Homo sapiens: one gene and its partners. The protein of the gene in region 3 purifies or fractionates together with the protein of the main gene of each other region. This does not show direct contact. Each region holds a gene or a part of one and is shown on either strand. Other genes may lie near its edges.

The links. Proteins that work in one complex are often made in the same cells at the same time.
Region 1: the proteins of VPS50 (region 3) and ZNF33A purify together in Homo sapiens (affinity purification with mass spectrometry; one large-scale study listed by BioGRID and IntAct). This does not show direct contact.
Region 2: the proteins of VPS50 (region 3) and BRF1 purify together in Homo sapiens (affinity purification with mass spectrometry; one large-scale study listed by BioGRID and IntAct). This does not show direct contact.
Region 4: the proteins of VPS50 (region 3) and RAPGEF2 purify together in Homo sapiens (affinity purification with mass spectrometry; one large-scale study listed by BioGRID and IntAct). This does not show direct contact.

The regions. Positions count from the first base shown.
Region 1 is NC_000010.11:38,058,131-38,060,587, forward strand, and holds the end of ZNF33A (zinc finger protein 33A), read left to right. Parts: 3' UTR 1-1,957; downstream 1,958-2,457. UniProt on the Homo sapiens protein: May be involved in transcriptional regulation.
Region 2 is NC_000014.9:105,208,786-105,211,393, reverse strand, and holds the end of BRF1 (transcription factor IIIB 90 kDa subunit), read left to right. Parts: intron 1-100; coding exon 101-272; intron 273-805; coding exon 806-843; 3' UTR 844-2,108; downstream 2,109-2,608.
Region 3 is NC_000007.14:93,291,366-93,294,865, forward strand, and holds part of VPS50 (syndetin), read left to right. Parts: intron 1-337; coding exon 338-470; intron 471-3,179; coding exon 3,180-3,271; intron 3,272-3,500.
Region 4 is NC_000004.12:159,106,079-159,109,578, reverse strand, and holds part of RAPGEF2 (rap guanine nucleotide exchange factor 2), read right to left. Parts: intron 1-3,500. UniProt on the Homo sapiens protein: Functions as a guanine nucleotide exchange factor (GEF), which activates Rap and Ras family of small GTPases by exchanging bound GDP for free GTP in a cAMP-dependent manner.

The DNA of each region.
Region 1 (2,457 bases), on a different chromosome or scaffold from region 3:
TAACCTGAAAAAACATTAGAGTAAAAATCATTGAAATTGAAAAGAGAAAATCGATAAAACCCAAAACTGGTTCCTTGAAAAGGTCAGTAAAATTGATAAACCTCTAGCTAGCTTAAGAACAAACAGAAGACAAATATTGCTAATACCAAAAATGAAAGAGGCCATCACAGCTAATCCTATGGTCACCAAAAGGATTAGAAAGAAACATGGACAACTCTGTCCATAAATTTGATAACTTAGCTAAAATGGACCAATTCCTTGCAAGACGCATTCTCTCAAAGCTCACACAAGATAGACCTCAATAGGCATATGTATCTATTAAATAAACCAAAGCAGTAATTAATAACCTTCCAAGGCCAGGTACAGTGGTTCATGCCTGTAATCCCAGCACTTCACTTTGGGAGGCTGAGGCGGGTGGATCACAAGGTCAGGAGTTCGAGACCAGCCTGGTCAACATGGTGAAACCCCCTATCTACTAAAAATACAAAAAATTAGCTGGGCATGGTGGCATGCGTGTGTAGTCGAAGCTACTCAGGAGGCTGAGGCAGAAGAATCACTTGAACCTGGGAGGTGGATGTTGCAGTGAGCTGAGATTGTGCCACTGTACTGCAGCCTGGGTGACAGAATGAGACTGCATCTCAAAAAATAATAATGAAACTTTCCAAAACAAAGTGCCAGGACCAGCTGGGTTCACTGATGTGTTTTTGAGATACTTAAGGTAGAAATGATACCAAGTCTCTACCATCTCTTTCAGAAAATAAAAGCAGAGATAACACTTCCCAACTCATTTTGTGAGGCCAGTATTACCCTAATAGCAAAACCAGGCAAAGATATTACAAGAAAGGAAAACTACAGATCAATATTTCCATTGAACACAGATGCAGAAATCCTCAAAATATTAGCAAATCAGGAATGCAAGGCTTGTTCAACATTTGATATTCAGTGTAATCCATTGCATGCATTAGCAGCTCAAAGATGAAATACGATCATATCAATAGGTACAGAAAAAGCATTTGACAAAATCCAATATCCATTCATGTTAAAACCTCTCAACACAGAAGGAATACAGGAGAACTTACTCAAGTTGGTAAAGAACATACTACAAAAAACCCTACAGCTAACATTATCCTTGATGTTTCCAACTAGACACTTTCCTACTAAGATCAGGAACATGGCAAGGAACACCACACCACTGCTTTTCAGCATTGTACTGGAAGTGCTATATAATGCAGTGTTAAAAAAAAAAGAAATAAAATGCACATAGATTTGAAAGGATGAAATACAACTTTGTTCACAAGTAACATGATTGTCTTTGTAGAGAATTCTAAATAACAAAAACCCTGCTGACATTAATAAGCAATTACAGCAGGATTGCAGGATACAGTCCTCAGGTAGATGATAAAAAGGAATTGGACATCAAGTCATTAAAAGACACGGAGAAACCCTAAATGCTTATTGTTAAGTGAAAACCAATCTGAAAAGGCTTTCTATTTTGTATGATTGCAATTATATGACATTTTGGGAGAGGCAAAACTATTGAGCCAGTGAAAGGACCAGTGGTTGCTGAGAGTTGAGGGGAAAGGAGGGATGGCAGGTAGAGAGGTGATTTTTAAGGCAGTGAAAGTACTCTCTAGGGTACTGTAATTTGTCAAAACGCAGAGAATGGAAAACAGTGAACGGAAAACACAGAGTAAACCCTAATGTCAACTCTGGACTTCAGTTAATAATAATGTATCACTGTTGGCTCATTAATTGTAACAAATGAACCATAATGATGCAAGATGTTAATGATTGGGGAGCCTGTGGAAGATGGGAGGGGAAAGGGTTATATGAGAATTCTCTATACTTTTTGCTCAACTTTCTGTAACCCTAAAGCTACTCTAAAAAATGAAGTGTATCAAGTAAATAAATAACCAACCAACCAACCCTGAGGAACATCTTGTTTCTGTACTAAGGTGTTCTTTTGTTAGTTGTATGTTTCTGACTGAACATGTAAATCATCATTAGTGAACAATTGAATTGCTTTTGTACATCCTTAATATATTTTAAATTATGGTAACTGTGACCTGAAATTAAGGACTAGTATTTTTGGTTCTCTTGACATCTGAAGCCAATAGGGCCTCAAATGACCTAACCTCATTTCCATCCCCACTCTGCTTCCACAGGTGAGGTAACTTAGCAGACAGTCCTCCTTGTCAGGGGGGCCAGGCACAATTCCTGCTTATTCCTAAGTAGTAAGATTTGCTTCCCTGCCAGCTCTTGGAATTATCACCAAACCCCTCACATCCTCCCACAGCAAACAGTGGTCACTGTACTCTGGATAATACAGCTGCTCGCCACAACCCCTCCTTTTCCACTCTGCTCCCTAGTCGAACCCTGTGTGGCTCTTCCCAGCATGTGGTGTCCTTCTCACCTTTCTGAGAGTTGGTGTGACTGACAAACTCACCTAGATCTTAT
Region 2 (2,608 bases), on a different chromosome or scaffold from region 3:
GTGGCTGAGCATCCTGGGCCAGCCCTGGTGGGTCTGAGGGGTCTGTTGAGATACACAGGGCTCCCAGCTCTGTGTGTGTCAGAGCCCCACTTCGTTCCAGGCTTTGCTCCCAAGCTCTCCCACCCTCGGAGCTGAGCCTGCCAGGCCCCAGGCGGTGCTGGTGGAGAGCGGGCCCGTGTCATACCACGCCGACGAGGAGGCTGACGAGGAGGAGCCTGACGAGGAGGACGGGGAGCCCTGCGTCAGTGCCCTGCAGATGATGGGCAGCAACGGTGGGTGGGGCCCGACAACAGGGAGGGGTTCAAGGGAAATAAAGGCATCAGCTACTGCCCCTCATGATCCCTGAACTTGGGCCTGTTAGCTTCAAACTAAATTTCTGTTTCTCCCTGGAAAGAAATTTGAACTAAGACATTTTGTAAATTGGTCATGTCGATTGTGAGGTTGGAGGCAGCCAGGGTCAGAGAGGCTAGGGACGGTGAGGTACCCACCACGAGGGCCGCCCAGCCAGCAGCACGAGGTTCCCGGATCTGCACACCACCACGGACCTGCACACCCAGGGAGGGAGGCTGAGGGAGCCCACACTGCTCTCAGGTGCCCTCGACGAGGAGCAAGGCCCTGCTCTGGGTGCATGCCAGTCCCGGGAGGTGGAGAGGAGCCCAAGATGGCTCCTGGCGGGGCGCGGGGGGCTGGGGCTGGGGCTGGAGCCTGAGTCTTCTAGGGGGGCACCAGGAACAGGGCGGGTTGGGGGGTCTGGGCTCCTGGGTCCCACAGAGACCCTGGGCTTCATGACTGTGCTCTTCTGCAGACTATGGCTGTGATGGCGATGAGGACGACGGCTACTGAAGTGTGGCCTCCAGGCAGGTGATGTCCTGGCAGGGGGCCTCGCGGGTCTCCTCAGCATCAGACGGGCTTCCAGGACCGCAGCAGGCAGGCCCCAGCGCCGAGACTCCTGGTGACAGGTGGCACCTGTCCCACAGCCCTCGTCCCATGTGGAACTTACCATTGGGATTGTGTTTCTATTCAGCAAGGGAAACCGGACCAAGCGTCTGCATGTGTGTGATCAGATGTGGGCCGGGTGTGTGCAGGGCTGGGTCCCGCTGCCTGCCGTCGACTCATCCAAGGACCCTCCAAGGCTGGCAGTGTGGTGTTGCTACTATTAAGGAAACAGGCTTGGGGCAGCCCCACTGCTGGTCCAAGTGTGTGGAGGGCTGAGTGTGCTGGCCCTGTGACTCAGGACCAGCTCTGGAGTCTCCAGCCCACCCTCCGCACCGTCCCCTCCTGAGCAGCACTCGGCGCCAGCAGCCTCTGCCAGAGTGGAAGCCAGAGCCCTGCAGGTGTCCGGCGCAGCCGTGGGAGCTGAGGATCTGGCACTTGAGAGGCAGCAGCTCCTTGAAGGTCCTCTGCCTCCAGCTGTGGCCCTGCATCCAGATACCTGCCTCGTCCGAGGCAGACACCCCCACCCCTGCCTCCTCCAGACCCCCCTCCCCGCTGCCTGCACCGCCTGGAGCAGCATGGGGGTCAGACCCCTGCTCCAGGGCCACTTGAGTTGTGGGCCCAGGAGCCCTGCGGCTGCCGGCAGGTGAACTGAGTGCCCGACAGCTGAGACCGGCGCCCACCCGTCCTGAGCATAGCTCTGTAGGCAGTGCGGGCATAGCCTGCATAGTGTCCTGGCGCTGGGAGTTCCCCGTGGACAGAGCCAGAGGGCAGTGGCGCTCCCTGTCAGAGCTGGATCAGGCCCCCCATCGAGGAGGGAGGGCAGACGGAGGCCCGAGAGCCTCCCCAGGCCTCTTCGTGGGAAGGCCCCAGTACCACTCGTAGGAGGTCTCAGCTCTGGCATGGCTGCCCCGGATGTGGCCGAGGGGGCTTCACCCTGTGTCCTTAGGAGGGGGTGGCCTTGAGGCAGAGCCGTGCCTCACTGACCCCCAGGGGCCTCATCCTCCCCATGGAATGGGCTGTATGTCCTGCCCCAACTTGGCCCGCAGCAGGCCAGACCCCCCTACCCCCGCCCAGAGCTCAGTAGCCAGCCTGGGTCCTGCCAGGGCTTCTCGAGGGCTTGGGGGAAGAATAGATTTAGTAAAGCAGGAAGATCTGTTGTTACTTAACAGAAATTGCCTGAGGCTTGTCTGATTCTGTGTTGCGATCTGTGGCCAGCCGTCATGTCGGTCTGCTGGCTGCACGGCCTGGCTGTGGATATTAGCCCCTGAGACCCAGGGGCTGCCCTGAGTGAGGGGTGTGGGGTCTTTAGGTCCCCCCAACTACTGCAGCAGCTGTTGAGTGGGTGTGCATCAGCCTGGGCTGGACATGGGTGTGCCACAGGGGACCGGGTGGACAAGTCCCCGCTTGGGCCCCCAGCGCAGTGTGGGCACCGGGAGGTGAGTGCTGTGAAGAAAGTGAAACGGCAGGACCAGCCCACAGGGGCTTCACTGAGGCTGGGGTAACAGGAAGCAGCAACTGGGCCAGGGTGGGCGGGCCTGGGGGCCACAGCTGGCACCCAGGGGCCCCGAGGGAGGTGCAGGTGGGCCGTGGGACCGCAGGATGGGGGGCTTGGAGAAGGTGCTCTTAGAGGAACCCTGAGGACCAGCTGGAGGGGCTCCCGGCCTAGCAGATG
Region 3 (3,500 bases):
TTAGGATCATGTCTTTCAAAAAATGCATTTGGGGATGTTTACACTGCTATTTATGGGACCAGTTGCTAATTCAGTAATTTCTTTATGGTTCTGTAACTACAGATTGATTCACAGCATATGGGCTGATATTCTTAATGTGTACGAAAAAGCCATGTTGAGATGGGAATTATTTAAAAATTTTTTTTCTCCCCATTGAATTTTCTCTTTAGATATGTCAGTTGAAGAAATTTTCTTGGTTATTTCTAATTTTTGAATATATTTGATTAATAACCTATTTTATTATAACTGTTAGAGTAAACATAATAATTTGAAAGTTGTCTCTTATCATTTTCTTTAGCATGTTACACCAGACAGCTATATTCCATGCCTTGCAGACCTGTGCAAAGCACTATGGGAAGTTATGCTCAGCTATTATAGGACTATGGAATGGCATGAAAAGCATGACAATGAGGATACTGCTTCAGCTTCTGGTAGGAAAATATTTTTATTTTATTTTAAAAATTGAACTATAAATATCCCACATTACTGGAGTAAGAAGAAAGGAAAGGGGCAGGAATGCCTTTGGGATTTCAAAGATTACAGTGACCATAGGCTAAATATTGAGCAAAGAAAGTGATTCAGCTACTTCAAATGTTCTATTACCTTTAGAGAGTAACTGGGCCAAAGGACTTTTTAAGTGGCACATAGTACTAGTTTCCAGAAGTGTGTGCTGATGGCTTTAGGACTGAATTTATAAATTTTTGTTGTTGTTAATATTATTAGTTGCAAACTAGATAAGACATTGGTCTGTCTAAGTTTACTGTGAAATTAATGCTAGATGGTCAATATTAATCTATTTAGCCAATTTTCAAGTTACAGTAATAAAGCTAGGTTCTAAGAATTAATTATATTGATACTTTCCTTCCTGAAAATGAAGCAAGACTAGAATTTCATTTTCAAAATGATGTTTTAAAATATTCATCTTTGAATGGAAAATATAACTTTAAATGACTGTGGTACAGTCAGCTAAATAATAAAGAATACGTCTTTGAAAAATTATTGTATTTATTAATCATTCTATTTAAATTGCTTCATTTGTATAATTATATATCTTAACTGATTATCCTTGAACAGTAGCTGAGATTGAATATTCAGAATACTTATAAAAACAGTAAATGATTTTATCAGCATTTTGTTTAATATGGATAAAATAAATTATACTGCACATCTTTTTTTTTGTATTATATACAATTTATTGTAGCTATTCAATCAAGTTACTTTAATAAACTTCCAGTTTCTGAGGGGCTTATTTTCTGTTGTTGGGTGAGTGGACAACACACCCAAATCTCACTGTTTGATTAAATGTTTTGGTAGTTTAGAAGGCATAGGTTTAATCTTTGTCTTGACTTACAAGAAGCTTGTAAATATAGAAAACAAAATAAGAGGAAAATTCCATGAATGGATTTTTATCCATTTGGAAATATTGTTGGGGAGAGTAAAGGAAGGGAGAGAAAGGCAGAGAGAAGGTTGGGCACACAGCCAGGATTCCAGGTCAGACTACTTTTACCCAAAACTTATACTTTTACCCTGTACTACCCCTGGGACCATGAGCTCTGCGATCTGAGAGGCCTGGCTTCAAGTTTTCACTTCTATTTACCAAAGGTGAGAACTTGAAGACACTGCTTATTTTTCCCATTCTTCAGTTTGCTCCTAAAATTGGTCAGTTAAAAAGCAAAGCAAAACCAAACCAAACCCTTAGAGTAGTAACGCATCTACCCTGCAGGGTTGTTGTAAAGTTTGGACAGCATGTAAGGTACTTATATTGGTGGTGGTTAATATGATGAAATGAAATGGATCAAGAGATAATATAATAATAGTGAAATACCTGGAGACTGTTAAGACATATTTGCTTTTCTAGTACATTATTTAAGGAGAAACCAAAGAAAACGTTTGGAATAGAATTAACACATATTTTAGATATCAGAATTTAGGTGACAGTTATGTATATATTCATCATGGTAAAGCTTGCTTTTTGCTTTAGGCCAATAGTTTACATTCGTTGGAATACTGAGTCAAAGTGAAAACTCTATCTGATCCTTATTACTCAACCCTCTTTGCCTAATCTGTATATTTTATGGATATTCAAGTGCTCAAGCTGTCAGCTGATAGTATCTAGGACTATAAAAAGTTACTTGTTCACCTGAAATTAATCCTTTTATATTCAGGAATAAAATTGTAGAAATTAGTAAATTGAAAATTACTTTTCATGGAACTTCATAAAACTGAAGAGGACTCTAGACTTTATCTGCTGTATCTCTTTAGTGATAATATTTGATACTGTTTGGTAACCTAATACTTTAACGTTCTAAGGTAAAGCTCTAAAGCTATAGTTCAGGTGCACTGCCTTAGGCTGCTGGATCCCTAACAGCCATACCATGGGTGTAATAATAAGGCTTACGTTTTAGGAGTGCTCAGAGGCAAACTTGTCATGCATCTGTGTATCTGAGGCCTGGCATTTCCAAGGACCTTTTACTGGTTATCAGTGGATAACTTCCCAACCTAAGACAAGATGATAACATACTCACTTAGTTGTTCTTCACAGGATATTCACACAAAAGTTTCATCTTTTTAATATAAATGTGTATGTGTCTTTTTCAGTTGTCTTTAGGGCGGAGATTGGAGGCAGATCACTGATCTTATCTATTAAACTAGACATTGTTAAATTATTTATCTGGAGTGGATAAAACTATTATTTATCATGAAAAATATAAAATATATGCATTATCACCTCACGCCTGAGTTTTAATGTAGACTATCCTCTTAGCACGCATATTAATTGATAATTCAGTTAATTGGTCCTGTAATGCCCTTCTCACAGCCTTTTACATGGTCTTGCAGTAGGCAGTATTGAGAACCTGGTCTCTGGGACCACACTGACTCAGGTAGAATCCCAACTCAGTCACATATGATCTCAGTGGTCTTAGGTATATTTAGCATTTCATAGTCTACGTTTATTTGTCTCACCAAATGGGTTTAAGTCTAATACCTATTGTTTGATATTGTTTTGATTGTATAAATATCAAACATATTTACTGTATCTTACATAGACTTACAATGTGTGAGAGGCCAAATAGAAATTATTTGGAAAACAAACACAAATTGGATTAAATCTAAAAATATATATTGTCTTTTATTTTCAGAAGGGAGTAATATGATAGGTACTGAAGAAACTAATTTTGATCGTGGCTACATAAAAAAGAAATTAGAACATGGACTTACACGAATATGGCAGGTTTGGTTTTTTTAAAATTATTTTTTTCACAGAAGCAATAGAAATGTCATGTCATAGTTTTAGAAATTCAGTTTTAAGTTTTCTATATATGTATTCTTTGCAGATTTAATCATATGTTTCTGTTTGGAATTAGGCTATCATTTAATTTCTGTAATGTATTTGGACTATAAGTGGCAGGAAAAAAGTTTTTTAATTTGAAAATCTCCACTGGAAATATTCATACATGTCT
Region 4 (3,500 bases), on a different chromosome or scaffold from region 3:
CTGTTAAATAATAGAAATTGTATAAAATATGCTATAAAGAGGACTAACATTAGGCATTACACTAAATAATGTACTTTCACTTAATCCACAAAACCTCAGACAGCTATTATCCATTTTACCGACGAGGAAATTGTTACCAAAAATGGAGTGAAGAGAAGGAATACCCCATAAAATACGGATTATCAAGGACCAACGATTTTCAGTGGTTTCCATATCTCCTAAGTCTAAATCAAATTTACCTTTCTTTTAAATAGAAACGGGGCCTTGCTATGATGCCCAGGCTGGTCTTGAACACCTGGGCTTCAAGAGATCCTCCCACCTCAGCCTCCCAAAGTGCTGGGATTACAGGTATGTGTCACCACTCCTGGCCAAAGTTACTTCCATATAAAATTTACAAAGAAGGAATACTTTTTTTCTCATTAAGTTTTCATATGAATCAAGCAAAATCAGAGTTTTTATTTCTAGAAGGTTATCATATCATTATTTCGGATAGTCCATTTATATCTGAGGCGCATCCCATTATAATTTTATGCAACTTGAATTTCAAATTATCACCAATGGACCAGGTGCAGTGGTTCACACCTGTAATCCCAGCACTTTGGGAGGCTGAAGCAGGAGGATCACTTCTGCCCAGGACTTCATGACCAGTCTAGGCAACAAAGCGAGACCCTCATCTCTACAAAAAATTTTTTAAATTAGCCAGGCACAGTGACATAAGCCTGTAGACCCAGTTACTCGAGGCTGACGCAGGAGGATCATTTGAGTCTGGGAGATAGAGGCTGCAGTGAGCCCGGGCAACAAAGCAAGACCCTATTCCAAATATATATATCTCGCTCTCTTACCAAACATTGTCTATCGCCATACCATCCTGAAAGCACCCCATCTCATCAAATATCACCAAAGAAAGACCTTATTGTGATTCTTTAAATCATCCAAAATCTACCCAAATAAGTTTTTTTCAGGTCCAAAGTAAAATTTAAATGAAAAAATGCAGTGAATTTTCTTATGACGCAAACAATATTTTCTTTCAAAACTGAGCTTTAGAATAACACTGCATCCTTCCTTTCTTAAAAACAGTGAGATTAAATGATAGTGATAAGAAGTTATAACTAGTTTTGTTTTTATTTTATGTTCCTTCTTGAGAGAAAAACCAAGGTGGTCATCTTCTCCTTAAAAAAAAAAAAAAAAAAAAAAAGAAAGTTCTGTGAAATTCCAGCATTTGGGAATGACTGCGACTGCATTAAACGAGTATCTGCATAAAGCACTGCAGTTGGAGAGATTTTCATTTTGAACCTTAGCCAAGATATGCAAAGCTAATTATGGAACTGTTAATTACTAAATGTTTAAAGGGTTATTTGAAGGCGACTAAGGTTCTATCAATATTGCAAGGAATGTTAATATTTTTATCATAAATTTAATTCCTCATTTGTTCAAAGTCACATACCAATAGAGTTTGAAGCTAATATTTCAGTTATAAATGTATTTCTGTACCAAGAAATTCAAATGTCATTGTTATGAAATCTAACTGCTTGTGGCCAATCATTTCTTTATGAGACATGCTTTTTAAATGGCATACAGATAGTTTAGTTGTATTCTATGAACAAAAACTATTTAAGAAACAAATATTACTAGAGCCCCAAAATGGGCTAAAATATAATGAGAGTATAAGCTGACAAATATGAGTCTGCTTATAAGCAATGGTAAAAAGAAACTCAAATGGAAAATTTAACTATAACAGACACAATTCTTCCATTAGATTTGAAAGTTAAATATTTGTCAGAGATATTCTTTCATGCCGTTTCTCATAATTTACAGTTCTCTGAGCTAAAGTTACTTTTTTCAGCCCTCTCATTATGACTCACGATGAATTCTACCAAGTACTTAGCAATGAATTAAGTCCTGTATTCTTTATAACACATCAATGAGTTAGTACTTATATCAAAAGTTGTAATAGCCCAAAAAAAAGTAAGATTATTAAATAGGAGGAGATGGGGTGGGGGTTATTTTACACATAACATTTTTAACAGTAACTTTTACAACTAGCTAAAAATGCATTACATTAGGTCTTTAAAGAGAAGAAACAGTTTTGCAATAGATGTTTCACCTGAAAAACTGAAAATGGTATGCATTTAGACACTCTACAGAAGCAATTTCAAAGGGCCTGAACTCAACAAGTTAACAAAATGGTTTAGAAAAACCATTTTATTGTATAAGCCTTGGGGGATAAAAGCTGTTTGTAATTTATTTACATCTTTTACTTCACCAAATTGCCTTGGTGACCAAGCTTCTCATTTAAGTGATTAAAGACATAAACCCAAATGGTTAAATAAAGCAATTACTTAAGAGTCCTGTTTTTCAACAGAGGTGCACTGAAAAATATCAGTAGAATGTTTTCAGGGCTCATTATTTTCAAGGAAGTTTGTTATTTAGAATACAATGCCCCATTGACTAGAACTCAGCCAGGTTTCCAGACACACAATATGGGACACACATTGGATTAGAGTTTTCCTCCTCCTCTCACAATATCAGGTGAAATAGTGATAGTCTCTTGAAACTGAGTATGTATAACCTGGCTAAAACTTAGATGATAATTTTTTTGGTATTTCTCCTTACTATTCCCCCTCTCTAAAGATATAACTGAAATGCGTTTCCATTGTGCAGGTGGACATGAAAAGCTCCCAATTTATGAAAGTTCCTGGTACTCTTCCCACCCCTAGATTCTCTTCTAGCCAACTTCTTAGGTTACACCAATGACATCAGGATTACTTCTAGGCAATTGATTGACCTAAATACAAAACTATGTTTTCACGGAGCTTGGGAAATGAATGAGGCCAGCAAGCCTTTAAAAAACAAACAGAAATGAACAGCAGGAAAAAAAATTACATATGTTCCCCAATTCTTTTCCTTTTGCCTATAACGAGAATCATGCAAACTCCTTTATCGAGTCTATCCTCAGAAACAGAAGGAAGCAAAACAGCAAAACTTTCCTAATTCCTGTCCTTCTGTTCATGATATCAAGCTTATTTAACATGGTTGCTTTTCTAATATTATAAAATTCGAACTCACAAACATTTATAAGACAAGGCTGTATGGAAAATCTTCCAGCGTTCCATTAACAAAGCATTCTTAACATAAAAAGTACCTTCTACAAAAACTTTTTTTTTTATAATTTTTGAGTAAATTTCAAATTTTTATAAGATTACTCCTGGCCAGTCAGGTAAAGATGGAAAACGTTCACATTTCGAACAACTTTCTCTTGAAAAGAAATAAACGTGGGGATTTGTAGTAATAACCAAACGAACATCAAAGTTAATAGGGCTGACACTTAGGAATGTTTGAAATGTTTGGTAGGTTTCCTTATGTTTACTTTTTCTATGAAGGTTTGGTAGGGCAAATGGGCTGCCTTCCGACTGTCAATAAAGCTTTCATGTCGTGGGTTAGTAGTAGCTGGCCCAGGCCAAGTTCTGTGTTGGGTCAGTTTTTACTCTATTCTACACAAC